Linked DNA regions of Homo sapiens: regions 2 and 3 are each linked to region 1. The links come from fine-mapping of genetic effects on gene expression. A gene starts in region 1. Each other region holds a variant in brackets. All regions are shown on one strand. Distances are between the middles of the regions. Region 1 holds the start of CTSO (cathepsin O). Region 2 has its middle 6.6 kb from the start of TDO2. Region 3 overlaps TDO2 (tryptophan 2,3-dioxygenase).

The links. PIP is the estimated chance that this variant, and not a neighbour inherited with it, causes the effect.
Region 2: its variant is the best candidate, but not a certain one, in a credible set for the expression of CTSO in whole blood (TOPMed, PIP 0.87).
Region 3: its variant is the best candidate, but not a certain one, in a credible set for the expression of CTSO in prefrontal cortex (CommonMind, PIP 0.67).

What each region holds. Positions count from the first base shown.
Region 1 is chr4:155,951,621-155,956,851 of GRCh38, reverse strand. It overlaps CTSO (cathepsin O), which reads left to right and starts at 2,986. Exons shown (of 8, transcript NM_001334.3): 1 at 2,986-3,139. The coding sequence starts at 3,005. RefSeq lists an enhancer at 1,581-1,875.
Region 2 is chr4:155,894,480-155,899,710 of GRCh38, reverse strand. No RefSeq gene overlaps it. Among named protein-coding and RNA genes, the nearest start is that of TDO2, 6.6 kb to the left of the region's middle. The variant G/C (reference allele first, on the strand shown) is at 2,718.
Region 3 is chr4:155,920,067-155,925,297 of GRCh38, reverse strand. It overlaps TDO2 (tryptophan 2,3-dioxygenase), which reads right to left. Exons shown (of 12, transcript NM_005651.4): 12 at 4,892-5,231. CTSO (cathepsin O) reads left to right here. Exons shown (of 8, transcript NM_001334.3): 8 at 1-1,180. Among named protein-coding and RNA genes, the nearest start is that of TDO2, 19 kb to the right of the region's middle. The variant C/T (reference allele first, on the strand shown) is at 2,738.

The DNA of each region.
Region 1 (5,231 bases):
CTGCTGCTCCCACCTCAGTCATTCCCTGGTCCACTGTCTCAATTTCTCTATTCACTCATTCTGCAGGAACAAAGAGCTGGCAGGAAAAGCCCAGCCTTCTGATAAGGTTCTGAGGATTTTGTCCAAAGGCCTAAGAGGAGCTGAGGACTCTTGCTAACAGCCACATGAGCTTGAAATTGAATCCTTTAAACTTGGGAAACCTTCAGAAGATTGCAGCCATATGCAACAGCTTGTCTGCGTCCTCATGAGACACTCTGAGCTGGAACCACCCAGATAAGCTGCTCCCTCCTGGTCCACAGAAACTGTTTAAGATAAGAAAAATTCGTATTTTTAAGATGCTAAGTTTGAGGGTTATATTTTACATGGCAATAGATATCTAATACAGAGTTGAGGGAAGTTCCATGTGCTATTTTGCAAATTTGATGAAAAAAACACATCTCTACATATACATGTAATTTGTAGTGTTTATTCTAAGAATTAGCAGATACTTGCCACCTTCACTTTTCAAGCCACTTTTCAAAAACTTTGTTTTACTACTTAATAGATGATTCTGATCTCCCTTTTAACTGACCCAAAATTCTTCACAATCTGTGCGCTTCTTACTTATCTCATATTCTACTCTCCCCCATCCTTTTTTTTTTCCTTTACTCCATCCATGCTGACGTCTTTTATGTTTCTGGAACGTGCCAAGCAAACTTCCATCTCAAGGCCTTTGTGTTGACAGTTCTTTCTGTCTTAGCTTCTCTTTCCCTGGATATCTGAATATCCATGTGGCTCACTTTCTTCTCCTTCAAATCTTTGCTCAAAACTCTCCTCATCAGTGAGGACAGTATTGAACAGCTTATTTAAAATAGCAGTACCACCCCTCACACTGATGATGCTCCTTATCTGGATTTATTGTCCTTTAACACATGTACAAGTTGAGCATCTCTAATCCAAACACCCAAAATACTCCAAAATCTAAAACTTATTGAGTACTGACATCATGCCACACCTAGAAAATTTCACACCTGACTTCATGTGGTGGGTCATAGTCAAAATGCATTCAAAGCCTTGTTTTATGCATAAAATTACCTAAAATAGTCAGTAAGATTACCTTCAGTCAGTAGCATAAGTGAAACACAAATGAATTTTGTGTTTAGACTTGGGTCTCATCCCCAAGAGATCTCATTATGTATATGCAAATATTCCAAAATCTGGGGGGAAAAAATCTGAAATCTGAAACACTTCCAGACCCAGGCATTGTGGATAAGGGATCCTCAACCTGTAGTAATTTTATTGCGTCTCTCCCCCTCACTGAAATACCAGCTTCAACAGGGTGGGGCTTTTCATCTCTTCAGTCACTTATGCACTTCCATCCATGATGTGTCCTGATGACCTAGAACAATGCCTGACACTTAGGAAGTACTCAATAAAATATTTGTTGATGTAAATCAATTGAAATATCAGTCCCATAGGGATGGGGATTTTCATCCCTTTAGTCACTTATCCACTTACTTGATATATCCTCATTACCTAGAAGAATGCCTGACACTTAGCAGGTACTCAATAAATACTTGATGTGAGCTCCTGAAATGAGTTTAGTTCAAGGGGCTTTTTTACAATACCAATTATCCTAAAGTAAAGATGACTGCCTATATTTAAATTTCCTGACTCCGTAGGTTGTCAATAAACAGGGACTATGATCTGAAAGCAAAGTTCAGTTTAAAAAGAAAAGTATGTGCTTGTATGAGTCACAAAAAAGGGCTAAGTACAAAAGAACTGCTGAGGTAAACATGAACATCGTTCTGTGAACTTATGATTTAAATAAAATCTTTATCACCACACTTGCCAAGAGCAATATATCTTATCATGAACGTACATAAAAAACTCTTGTGTCTTTCCTCTTAATACTCGGAACATTATTTTTATTTTTATTACGAAGTTTGCATTGGAGAATATTGTAACTCACTGCACCTAGGTAAAAACTAAAGACATAAATCTGATGTTAGTTCTAAAAATCTACAAGGGTAATGATATGAATTTCACAGACATGGAAGCCTTGTTCAGAATAGATGATAATAGAAAGGCTCGGTAGAGCCAGGTTCATGAGTGTGTGACCTGTGCAGAAGTGGGTGCTTAGAAGGCCCATGGCTTGGGTTAATGCTCTGCTGTTGCCGTCTTGAAATTCTTCACAATTTATGAACAAGGGAACTTCATTTTCAGTTTACACGGAACCCTGCAAATTATGTACTTGGCTCTATCTTCCTTTGCAAACGGAGAAACAGGCTTCAAGAGTTTTGAAACTGCCATAATAGATCCAAAAACTGTGTATGCTTTTCACATCTGTACAATTTTGTTACGTATTTATAAACATCTGCTGAATGGATGACTCTATGTATTGGCCCACATCACTTCAGAACTAGGTCTTGAACTTAGGGATTGTGGCAAGAAGGAAAAAGGCAGCTTCCGGTGGCTCACAGGGCAGGCCAGGTGGCTCACACCTGTGAGCATTTTGGGAGGCCAAGGCGGGTGGATCACTAGAGTCCAGGAGTTCGAGACCGGCCTGGGCAATATGGCAAGATCCTATCTCTACTAAAAATACAAAAATAGCCTGGGGTGGTGGCACGCGCCTGTAGTCCCAGGTACTCCGGAGGCTGAGGCAGGAGGCACTTGAACCTGAAGGTCGAGGCTGCAGTGAGACCTGATCTCAACACACACAAAAGAATGACTCTCAGGCTTCTTTTTTTCTAATGGATGGAAGTGAAACCTCGAAAGCACATGGTCAAGTGCCTGACTCTTCCAAAACAAAAACAAAAACAAAAAAACTAGCCTCAGCAAGGAGGTCCGTAGCCTCCAGCTGACCGGATTTTCAGTCACAGAACACCGGGGACCTAAAAAAGGGTCAATCTCAGCATCGTGCACTCAACCCAGCTCCTTCCGCCCCTCGAGCCCAGGCTGGGAGGAGCCGAGGAACCGAAAGAGAAAACAGGCCGCGCGGGCGGCAGAGGAGCCGGGCGCCGCAATGGACGTGCGGGCGCTGCCGTGGCTGCCGTGGCTGCTGTGGCTGCTGTGCCGGGGCGGCGGCGATGCGGACTCCCGCGCCCCCTTCACCCCGACCTGGCCGCGGAGCCGCGAGCGTGAAGCCGCCGCCTTCCGGGTACCGAGCGCGCGCCTCCCCGGGATCTGTCCCTGCTCCCTCACTTCCTGTCCCGGGTCTGGGCTGCGGAAGAGGGCCCCCGAGAGCTGACCCTGCTCGTGGGCACCCGTGGCTCTGCGATGCGTCTGGGGCCCTGAGCTGCGGGTGCAAAAGCCAGCTTCTCTCTCCCCTCTCCTTGTGCCATGGTGTCACTCCCCCATGCCTTTGCTAACCAAAAGACTTGATTTTCCAGAAGAGATTTGTCGCTATGGATTTTTGGGACGCACCCAAATAAATCCATAGATACGTCCAAAGTGTCCTTGGTGGGAAGAAGCACCCCCTTTTAGCAATCCCCTCTATCGTTGCCACTGGCTTCCAAAGCTCTTCTATTTCTCTTTTATGAGAACCAGAAACAGGGAGCAGCCTGTTGGTGGAAGAAACCTGTCGTGTTTTTTTTTCCCGAGGAGGGCGCTAGTGATCAGAAGTTAGAAACAAAGAGCCTGTCTTTAGCCAGATTAAAGAATCCTGATGGTTTATGATTCTCCTTAAACTAACGCACCACTTTAAAAGTTCTTCCTGCCTTGGCGGAGACTGAGTTGAAGAAAAGAGAAGCATTTAATTTCCTTTTCATATTATTATACGAAATATAATATAATTTATATTTTATAATATTTATAATAAATACTTAGATTTGAGTCTAGCATGAAAACTCTGGAAGGGACCAGTTAGCTGAGCACAAATAATGATTTTCCTGAAACCAAGGAAACTGCAAGGGATGCCGATTTAGTGTTCGCCTCACTATGTTCTAGATAGCTGATACTATTTAACACATTTTTAAATTCATGAAAGATGCCATTATCATGATTTAATTTATTGGAAAAGAAAATTCTTTCATTCTGAATCAAACATAAGTCTGAGTTGAGTAATATTGCTCAAGGAAGTGTATCTTTTTTCCTGGTGTTTGTTGGAATTTCTCACAGGATTTCATAGCTGTGCTCTTTTCCCCCGACTCTCCTGGAAAGCTCCAATGTTTAGGAAGGCCAGCCTTCCCTGATTCTGTCCACTCTTACGTTTTGTCCAAACCGAGATGTGTACTGTTATCTCCACTTTATTATTCTTGAGTTCAGTTCTAGCTTTCAAAACCAGAAGTCCTCTTACTCTTTCAAGAACAAAATTCTGGCCTGTATTCTACCCCTATCCTCAACTTACGTTCGTTTTCCTGGTAAACGAAACCCCTTAGGGGAAAAGTCAGTTTCACCTTTATTGGTAACGTATTCATTGGCTAAATAAATAAACACACTGTCAGGCTCCTAAAAATAATATTTCAGGACAAAGCTCAAAGGGCTAGACTTATAAATATATTTTTAACATTTATTTAGATTTTAGATAATTTATAAATATATATGTGTATAATTTATGTAGTGACTCATACTGGTCCTGTAAAGAGGCCATACCCTGATGAATGTCTAGAAAATGTAACTTTTCTCAGGAGAAATACAAAGAAACAGGTTGAAAGATGGAAAGTTGGAAGTGGAGGAGGATCGAATTATGAAGACTCTTAGTACATTTTAAAAACCTCGGGTTAAGAAATACTGAAAAAATTTTCAAAGCAATTGCTGCCTGTAAGAATTTGCTTCATGAGATGGATACCCAAAAAAGAGAACATTGAGGCTTCAACGCACAGTTGCTGGAAACTGAACACCTCTCGGTGCTTAGTTGGACTTTATCCAAGAATGCTTTAAAACCGATTTTCTACCTTAGTGGTCCCCAATCTTTTGGCACTAGGGACCGGATTCATGGAAGACATTTTTTCCATGGACGGGAGGAGGGAAGTGGGGGAGATGGATGGATTTGGGATGAAAGTCTTTCATCTAAGATCATCAGGAATTAGTTAGATTAGTTAGCTGGAGATTGCTGTTCGGACTTGGGATAGAGAGCTGGACAGTGGGAAAGGTGGAAAGGGCCTTGCCTCCTTGGTAACCGTGAAACTTCTTGTTGAAATCAAGTTAATTCATTGGTGAATTGATGATTCAGGGGTTTGCAGCTGAAGATCTGGTTCAAGAAAGTCCTTGATTAATTAGTAATGTCTTTCATGGTCATGGGTTTAGAGAAT
Region 2 (5,231 bases), 57 kb after region 1:
GCCATATTTTGGTATATAAACACGTTAACATTCATTTTTTCCTAGTTCAACATGATATATTATCATTGAAAATTTGAAAAGAAATGCTTTTCTTTATATAATTTAATAGTATTTTTAAAAGCAAGTGTTCTATTTGTAAATAAGAAGAGGTTACCAACTATTTTAATAGTATAAATTATATTAAATAAACTTTATAATACAATCATAATGTATTATATAATTTTTTAAAAGTACTAAGTAGCATATTTTATTATCAACTACATAAAAAACATTAAAATGATTTTAAAAGTTTAGGTATTATAAAAAAATTATTTAAAGTTTAGGTATTATTCTCATAATATACAGTTTGAACCATATGAAATTGATGCTTTTGTAGGTTGGAATGGTTAAATAGCAATAATTTTATAGAATTCATATTATTACTATTAAAGTAAATACTAAATACTAAAAATACTATTAAAGGTAGTTCACAAGTCAGAAAAAATTGCAAAATAGAAACATCTGTTCTTTAAAAGGGAAGGGTGTTGCGGGAAGTCAGGGAACCCAAATGGAGGGACCAGCTGGAGCTGCAGCAGAGGAACATAAATTGTGAAGATTTCATTTTAATAAGGACATTTATCAGTTCCCAAATAATACTTTTATAATTTCTTACACCTGTCTTTACTTTAATCTTTTATCCTGTTATCTTCCTAAGCTGAGGAGATACGTCACCTCAGGACCTCTGTGATAATTGTGTTAACTGTACAAATTGATTGTAAAACGTGTGTTTGAACAATATGAAATCAGTGCACCTTGAAAAACAACAGAATAACAGCAATTTTTAGGGAACAAGGGAAGACAACCATAAGGTCTGACTACCTGTGGGGTCAGGCAAAAAGAGCCACATTTTTCTTCTTGCAGAGAGCCCATAAAGGGACATGCAAGTAGGGAAGATATCACTAAATTATTTTCCTAGCAAGGAATATTAATATTAGTATTAATACCCTGGGAAAGGAATGCATTCGTGGGGGGAGATCTATAAACAGCTGTTCTGGGAATGTCTGTCTTATGTGGTTGAGATAAGGACTGAGATACACCCTGGTCTCCAGTACCCTCAGGCTTACTAGAGTGGGGAAAACTCCGCCCTGGTAAATTTGTGGTCAGACTGGTTCTGTGCTCTTGAACCCTGCTTTCTGTTGTTTAAGATGTTTATCAAGACAATATGTGCACCACTGAACATAGACTTTATCAGTAGTTCTGCTTTTTCCCTTTGCCTTGTGATCTTTGTTGGACCCTTACCAGTAGTTCTGCTTTTGCCCTTTGTCCTGTTCCCTCAGAAGCATGTGATCTTTGTTAGACCCTTAGTAGTAGTTCTGCCTTTTGCCCTTTGAAGCATGTGATCTTTGTACCTACTCCCTGTTCTTATACCCCCTCCCCATTTAAAACCTTTAATAAAAACTTGCTGGTTTTGAGCCTCAGGTGGGCATCATGGTCCTACTGATATGTGATGCCACCCCCAGCTGCCCAGTTGTAAAATTCCTCTCTTTATACTGTCTCTCTTTATTTCTCAGCTGGCCGACACTTATGGAAAATAGACAGAACCTACGTTGAAATATTGGGGGTGGGTTCCCCCGATAGAAGGGGGAAGCAGATTCTGATGCTAGCATGTTACATTGATTTCTTTAAATGATCAACAAAATCTGCATACTACCCAAACTTATTAGCAGAAAACTCAAGAGTTCACACATTTACAGCAGACTGTATAATTTTCAGATCTCATTTCCCATGACTTCCCACACAAACACCTAGTGATAAATCTAGAGCATAGGAACTAAGTCCTGAAATCTTTAAATTTTCCATGCTTACAGTGACCTCTCCACCTCTCCACCTCTTGAACTCTCACTCATTCTTTAAGAAACATTTCAGGCCGGGCGCAGTGGCTCACGCCTGTAATCCCAGCACTTTGGGAGGCCGAGGCGGGTGGATCATGAGGTCAGGAGATCGAGACCATCCTGGCTAACAAGGTGAAACCCCGTCTCTACTAAAAATACAAAAAATTAGCCGGGCGCAGTGGCGGGCGCCTGTAGTCCCAGCTACTCGGGAGGCTGAGGCAGGAGAATGGCGTGAACCTGGGAAGCGGAGCTTGCAGTGAGCCGAGATTGCGCCACTGCAGTCCGCAGTCCGGCCTGGGCGACAGAGCGAGACTCCGTCTCAAAAAAAAAAAAAAAAAAGAAACATTTCAAATAGACTTCTTCTGGGATGCTTTCCATGATATCCTCAAAAAGGAAAATTTCTTCCTCCTTGGTGGTTCAACAAGACTTTGTTCTTTTTTTTATTATTTTACTTTAAGTTCTAGGGTACATGTGCACACCATGCAGGTTTGTTACATATGTATACATGTGCCATGTTGGTGTGCTGCACCCATTAACTCGTCATTTACATTAGGTATATCTCCTAATGCTATCCCTCCCCACTCCCCCCACCCCATGACAGGCTCCTGTGTGTGATGTTCCTCTTCTTGTGTCCAAGTGGTCTCATTGTTCAATTACCACCTATGAGTGAGAACATGCAGTGTTTGGTTTTTTGTCCTTGTGATCATTTGTTGAGAATGATGGTTTCCAGCTTCATCCATGTCCCTACAAAGGACATGAACTCATCATTTTTTATGGCTGCATAGTATTCCATGGTGTATATGTGCCACATTTTCTTAATACAGTATATCATTGATGGACATTTAA[G/C]TTGGTTCCAAGTCTTTGCTATTGTGAATAGTGCTGCAATAAACATATGTGTGCATGTGTCTTTATAGTAGCATGATTTATAATCCTTTGGGTATATACCCAGTAATGGGATTGCTGGGTCAAATGGTATTTCTAGTTCTAGATCCTTGAGGAATCGCCACACCGTCTTCCACAATGGTTGAACTAGTTTGCAGTCCCACCAACAGTGTAAAAGTGTTCCTATTTCTCCACATCCTCTCCAGCACCTGTTGTTTCCTGACTTTTTAATGATCGCCATTCTAACTGGTGTGAGATGGCATCTCATTGTGATTTTGATTTGCATTTCTCTGATGGCCAGTGATGATGAGCATTTTTTCATGTGTCTGTTGGCTGTATAAATGACTTCTTTTGAGAAGTGTCTGTTCATCTACTTTGCCCACTTTTGATGGGTTTGTTTGTTTTTTTCTTATAAATTTGTTTGAGTTCTTTGTAGATTCTGGGTATTAGCCCTTTGACACATGAGTAGATTGCAAAAATTTTCTCCCATTCTGTAGGTTGTCTGTTCACTCTGATGGTAGTTTCTTTTGCTGTGCAGAAGCTCTTTAGTTTAATTAGATCCCATTTGACAATTTTGGCTTCTGTTGCCATTGCTTTTGGTGTTTTAGACATGAAGTCCTTGCCCATGCCTATGTCCTGAATGGTATTGCCTAGGTTTTCTTCTAGGGTTTTTATGGTTTTAGGTCTAACATTTAAGTCTTTGATCCATCTTGAATTAATTTTTGTATACAGTGTGAGGAAGGGATCCAGTTTCAGCTTTCTACATATGGCTAGCCAGTTTTCCCAGCACCATTTATGAAATAGGGAATAGTTTCCCCATTTCTTGTTTTTGTCAGGTTTGTCAAAGATCAGATAGTTGTAGATAAGTGGCATTATTTCTGAGGGCTCTGTTCTGTTCCATTGATCTATATCTCTGTTTTGGTACCAGTACTATGCTGTTTTGGTTACTGTAGCCTTGTAGTATAGTTTGAAGTCAGGTAGCGTGATGCCTCCAGCTTTGTTCTTTTGGCTTAGGATTGACTTGGCAATGCGGGCTCTTTTTTGGTTCCATATGAACTTTGAAGTAGTTTTTTCCAATTCTGTGAAGAAAGTCATTGGTAGCTTGATGGGGATGGCATTGAATCTATAAATTACCTTGGCCAGTATGGCCATTTTCACGATATTGAGTCTTCCTGTCCATGAGCATGGAATATTCTTCCATTTGTTTATGTCCTCTTTTATTTCACTGAGCAGTTGTTTGTAGTTCTCCTTGAAGAGGTCCTTCACATCCCTTGTAAGTTGGATTTCTAGGTATTTTATTCTGTTTGAAGCAATTGTGAATGGGAGTTCACTCAAGATTTGGCTCTCTCTTTGTCTGTTATTGGTGTAGATGAGTGCTTGTGATTTTTTGCACATTGATTTTGTATGCTGAGACTTTGCTGAAGTTGCTTATCAGCTTAAGGAGATTTTGGGCTGAGACAATGGGGTTTTCTAAATATACAATCATGTCATCTGCAAACAGGGACGATTTAACTTCCCCTTTTCCTAAGTGAATAACCTTTATTTCCTTCTCCTGCCTGATTGCCCTGGCCAGAACTTCCAACACTATGTTGAATAGGAGTGGTGAGAGAGAGCATCCCTGTCTTGTGCCAGTTTTCAAAGGGCATGCTTCCAGTTTTTGCTCATTCAGTATGACATTGGCTGTGGGTTTGTCATAGATAGCTCTTATTATTTTGAAATACGTCCCATGAATACCTAATTTATTGAAAGTTTTTAGCATGAAGGGTTGTTGAATTTTGTCAAAGGCTTTTTCTGCATCTGTTGAGATAATCATGTGGTTTTTGTCTTTGGTTCTGTTTATATGCTGGATTACATTTATTGATTTGCGTATATTGAACCAGCCTTGCATCCCAGAGATGAAGCCCACTTAATCATGGTGGATAAGCTTTTTGATGTGCTGCTGGATTCGTTTTGCCAGTATTTTATTGAGGATTTTTGCATCAATGTTCATCAAGGATATTGGTCTAAAATTCTCTTTTTTGGTTGTGTCTCTGCCCAGCTTTGGTATCAGGATGATGCTGGCCTCATAAAATGAGTTAGGGAGGATTCCCTCTTTTTGTATTGATTGGAATAGTTTCAGAAGGAATGGTACCAGCTCCTCCTTGTACCTATGGTCGAATTCGGCTGTGAATCCATCTGGTCCTGGACTTTTTTTGGTCAGTAGGCTATTAATTATTGCCTCAATTTCAGAGCATGTTATTGGTCTATTCAGGGATTCAACTTCTTCCTGGTTTAGTCTTGGGAGGGTGTATGTGTCAAGGAATTTATCCATTTCTTCTAGATTTTCTAGTTTATTTGCATAGAGGTGTTTGTAGTATTCTCTGATGGTAGTTTCTTTTTCTGTGGGATTGGTGGTGATATCCCCTTTATAATTTTTTATTGCATCTATTTGATTCTTCTCTCTTTTCTTCTTTATTAGTCTTCCTAGTGGTCTATCAA
Region 3 (5,231 bases), 32 kb after region 1:
CTTTGTTCTTTTTATACTATAGAATAATATTTTGTTCTCTAGTATATCAAAATACCAAAATATTATCTCATATTTTCTCCCTCTTTCTCTTACTCTTTACCAAGTTTTCCTGGTGGCTTGGCTTCCCTGACTAAAGAATTAAGTCTCATTTTTACTTTCCATTTCTATTTTCTTACCACTTGGTTGGCTCCCTTTGTCTCTGTACCTTTACCAACATTAGGATCTCACCTCTTTCTTCCTCCCTTAATTCATAAGCACCACTCCTATCAAAGTCCCATCTCTTAACCCTGGGTATCAAACAAACTGTGAGTTTTCCAGAATCTGTTTCCCAGTTTTCCCCTCAGCTTTCCTGGTCTCCCATCCGAACTGCTTCTTTGTGCACCTCTTGTTCTTTCTCTTGGCTCCCAGTCTTGATTCCTGTGATCACTCTTGCATCACTAATTGCACAAGTGATTTCAGGTGCAATTCTGATTAGCCTGCGTCCACACAGTGATCGATGATCCTATGTGCCTAGAAAGGACACTGTGTGCTGCTCATGACCTGCAACAGGAAAAAAGCCATTTCTTGTTAGCAGTGTAAGAACCTTAGAGCAAAGGAGTTGACCTTCTGATTGAATATAAGCACAACCATATTAAATGAATCAATACAAGAAAATTATTTCTGATACTATGTATGTACATATTTCTTCTCTAAAATGTATCATTCTTTTCTAATGTATATGATCTAACAAAAATGAAACATGAAATGCAGTAGCAACCACTAAAAAAAAAAATTCAAGGACATCTAACTTTTTCTCTCACTTTTGCCCTTTGTTTATCCTTCCCTGTGATTAGATAAACAAAATAAAAAACAAAATGCTGTATTTCTCTTCTTACGCCAGTCAGAACCAATCCGAAAAGAATGTGTGTTGACTCAGGTTTGGAGTTATTTCAGGAAGACAGATATTGACCTTTTAATTGATAAATATTCTTATTATCCTGGAATGCCAGAAAAGAACTATGTCCTGCTTGTCTAGTTTGTATTCGCTGACTTTCTATGTGATATAGATGCATTTGTAATACTCTTTTTCAAGTGCTAAAGGATTTCTAAAATTTCAAACTGATTAATATGTTTCTGCTGTTCTGGATTTTGATGACATTTACAATAAAACAACCTACATTTGACTTTGGTTTAAAAAGAACCTCTTCTTAAGTGTATGGCTTACATTTTGTCAACACGGTATTAATGTGCTTTATATTTACAGTTTTCTCAGCTCTAAATTAATATATCCAGCTTTTGGTTTTCTCCATAGGCACTTTAACCTCAGTGTTTCCGAAACTCCATTCGTCATCCTCCCTAACTTCTCCCACCACCCCCAACAAAAATTTCCTTTACCTCTAAGAGCCTCTATTTTGGTTAACAGAATCAACATTATGGAATCACCCAATCAATAAAATTAAGACAAATCCTAAACATTTAAGCAGGTCATCTGCACCTTGGTAACCCATCAATGAATTACCTACCTCCTGTGGCTACTGTCATTTCTTAGTTGCATGTTCTTTAGTGTCATTTATCTCCATTATTCAGTAGCCTACTCATTATTCTCTATGTCCCTTAGTCCAGACCCAAAGTCTGGTGATTCAGATTGATGTTCTTATAGTCCATCTACTGTATTTCCCCTGCATTTACATTTCTCAAAGACGTTATCAGTTTCTCTGTTCACAACCGTTCAAGGGCTCCCAATGCCTTATGATACCATGTGAGCTCTTTTAAGTGAGTTTTCACGAAGAAGCCCCTCTCTACCTTTTCAACCGTGATTGCTGCTGTGCTGCATAGTTTGATCACTCTTATGCTGTGATCCAGCCATAACAAACTACTTGAAGTCAAAGCAACAAAATCCTCACCTAATAATTAGAAGTCATAATGAAAGTCATCAACGTGTTTCTGGATGTGGTTTCACAAAGATCTCAAAGTGAATACTAAATTAGCCCACCTTACAGTGATTTTCTAGCCCATTTAAAAGTTATAAAGTGGGTCATCAGCACTAGAAGCAAGTGTGACTGGGGAGGGTGGGGACTTGCAGTCTAAATTATTTTGATATTTACATGAAGAATGACTGATATATCCTTTGATAAAACTCTTGCAACTTCTAGCTTAGTCACACCAAGAAATATAGGTGTAAAGAACTAAATATAACCATATAGTCTATGATATGGTTTAGCTATGATATGGTTTAGCTGTCTCTTAACCCAAATCTCACCTTGAATTGTAATAATCCCCACATGTCAAGGGCAGGGCCAGGTGGAGATAATTGAATCATGAGGGTGGTTTCTCCCATACTGTTCTCATGGTAGTGAATAAGTCTCACAAGATCTGATGGTTTTATAAATGGGAGTTCCCCTGCACAAGCACTCTTGCCTGCCACCATGTAAGACATGACTTTGCTTCTCCTTTGCTTTCCACCATGATTGTGAAGCCTCCACAACCATGTGGAACTGTGAGTCCATTAAACCTCTTTCCTTTATGACTTACCCAGTCTCAGGTATGTCTTTATTAGCAGCATAACAGCAGACTAATGCAACAGGCTAAGAAGGGAGTTACAGTATTGGCCAGGGTGATTGACCTGGACTATGAAGACGAAATCAGTCTACTACTCCACAATGGAGGTAAGGAAGAGTAGGCATGGAACACAGGAGAACCCTTAGGGTGTCTCTTAGTATTGCCATGCCCTGTGATTAATGTCAATGGGAAACTACAA[C/T]GGCACAATCCTGGCAGGACTACAAATGGCCCAGATACTTCAGGAATGAAGGTTTGGGTCACTCCAGCAGGTACAAAGCCACAACCTGCTGAGGTGCTTGCTGAAGGCAAAGAGAATAAGGAATGGGGGTAGTGGAATAAGGTAGTCATCAATAGCAGCTTCAGCCATGTGACCAGTTGCAGAAATGAGGACTGTAATTGTCATGAGTATTTCCTCTTTATTTTGTTGAGAACATGTTTGCACATATATATACTTGTACTAAGAAAATATATTCATTTTATTTCCTTTATTTTTCCTTTATCATGTGATGTAAGATTTGTTGACTTCATATCAGCATTTAAGTGTTGTTAACTTTAGGTAATAGCATTTGGATTGGGGATTGGTGCACTTCCAGTTGTACAAAGGATAGCTGTATTGTGTTAGATGTAATTATGACCTTATTATTGGCTTCAGTTGAAGATTATGTGTGATTTCAGGAGATGTGGATGGGTTCAAGTTGACAAAGTTGTGATGGTTAATATTGAGTGCCAACTTGATTGGATTGAAGGATGCAAAGTATTGTTCCTGGATGTGTTTGTGAGGGTGTTTCCAAAGGAGATTAACATTTGAGTCAGTGGACTGGGAGAGGCAGACCCACCCTCAGCCTGGGTGGGCCCTGTCTAATCAGCTGCCAGTGTGAAAGGAGGCATGGAGAGAACAGACCTGCTGAGTCTTCTGGCCTCCATCTTTCTCCCATGCTGGAGGCTTCCTGCCCTGGAATAACAGACTCCAAGTTCTTCAACTTTTGGACTCTTGGACTTATATCAGTGATTTGCCATGGGCTCTGGGGCCTTCGGCCACAGACTGAAGGCTACAATATTGGCTTCCCTCCTTTTGAGGTGTTGGGACTTGGACTGGCTTCCTGGCTTGCAGACCTATTGTGGGACTTCACCTTGTAATTTTGTAAGTCAATACTCTTTAATAAACTCCCCTTCATATATACATCGATCCTGTTAGTTTTGTCCCTTTGGAGAATCCTGACTAATACAGTCTATTAAAATAATGATAAACGTTGACAAATAACATTTACACCAATATTCTAAGGCACTTTGGTGACAGAATATCTATTAACACATGTTTCTCCTGGGAAATAGCAAAGCTTATAAAATAAGTACTTTTATCCCCAGATGGATAGGAAACTAGGCTTCAACTGGTGATAGTACCAGATAGTTAATAAATGGCAGAGCCAGAATTTGCCCTCGAGCTTGTTGATTTCAAAGCTAGTGCCTTTTAGCCACCATGCCATTTGCCTCTGTATTATATCAGCCTAGCCACCATCAGATACTGTGTATACACACATACATGAGCACACAACAGTCATGGAGACAAAAACAATTATATGTAATTCTGAGACAAACTAGATGATATAATCCTTATAAGACCTTATAAGAAAAAACTTGCAAATGAAACCAAAGAATAGTTCAATTCCATCAAGAACTTACTGCTTGCTAGTGATAATCACTCTAGGTCAAGGTTGACATACATTTTAGATTTCTTAAATAATATTATGTACTTCCTCCCATAACAAAAATTTAAGTTTTCCCAATAACCTGGCCAAGCTAGAAAAAGAAGACTAAAACTCATGTCTGATCTAAACTCTTAGCTTAGTTAATGTCTTATTAGAAATGAACTGGGTCACTGTCCAGTCTGTGTACTTTCTTCTGGAAAGCACATCTTCTTTGAGGGGACTGTTCCTTGCTTTTACCTCAGTTCTGCATGCATTAGAGTTCACTCCACCTCCCAGACCACAGGCATGGGAGCTGGGGGAAAGAGAAGCTTTGCCCTGTGTGAGTCTGATGGTGCTGGAAACTGGGACCCAGCCTGAGACAGAAGCTGTTCTACTGCAGGAAAGAATAAAGCCAACACCTACAGAGAAGAGATGAGACAAAAAAGATCTCAGAAGAGTGTTCCAGGAATATAGCACTCCAGGAACTGGACCCAGTCCTTGTGGCATCAGAGTTTTCAGGCTCCTCTTTCAAGGCTTTTTGGACAGTGTTCATTTGAATTCTGCAAGCTAGTAATTCTTCAGTATATCCCCTCTAGACAAACTTCAGATAGATTTCTGTCTTTGGTCATTAAGATTCCTAACAAATACAATCAATATTTCAAAAACAATACAGGGAGAAAGATTAATACTTTATTATTTTAAAAATTTTGTTTGAAAGCCTTTGTACAGAATAATATAATGTACTGCATAAAATATTTGAAATAGATGAAGTTTACAAGTTTATAAAGATGAAACAATGAGATAGTGATTACATTAAGTGGTTACATTAAGTCTCAGGGGAAACTGAATTTTTAATAGGAAAACACCCTATGTACAATGTTACTATTTAAATGTATTCTTTCTCATCTTAATGCTTAGTCTTGTCACAAACAAGAGGTAATCAAATTGTTTCTAGAATTAAATCAGAGCATCGTGGTGCTGAACAATATATGCATACATATATTCAAA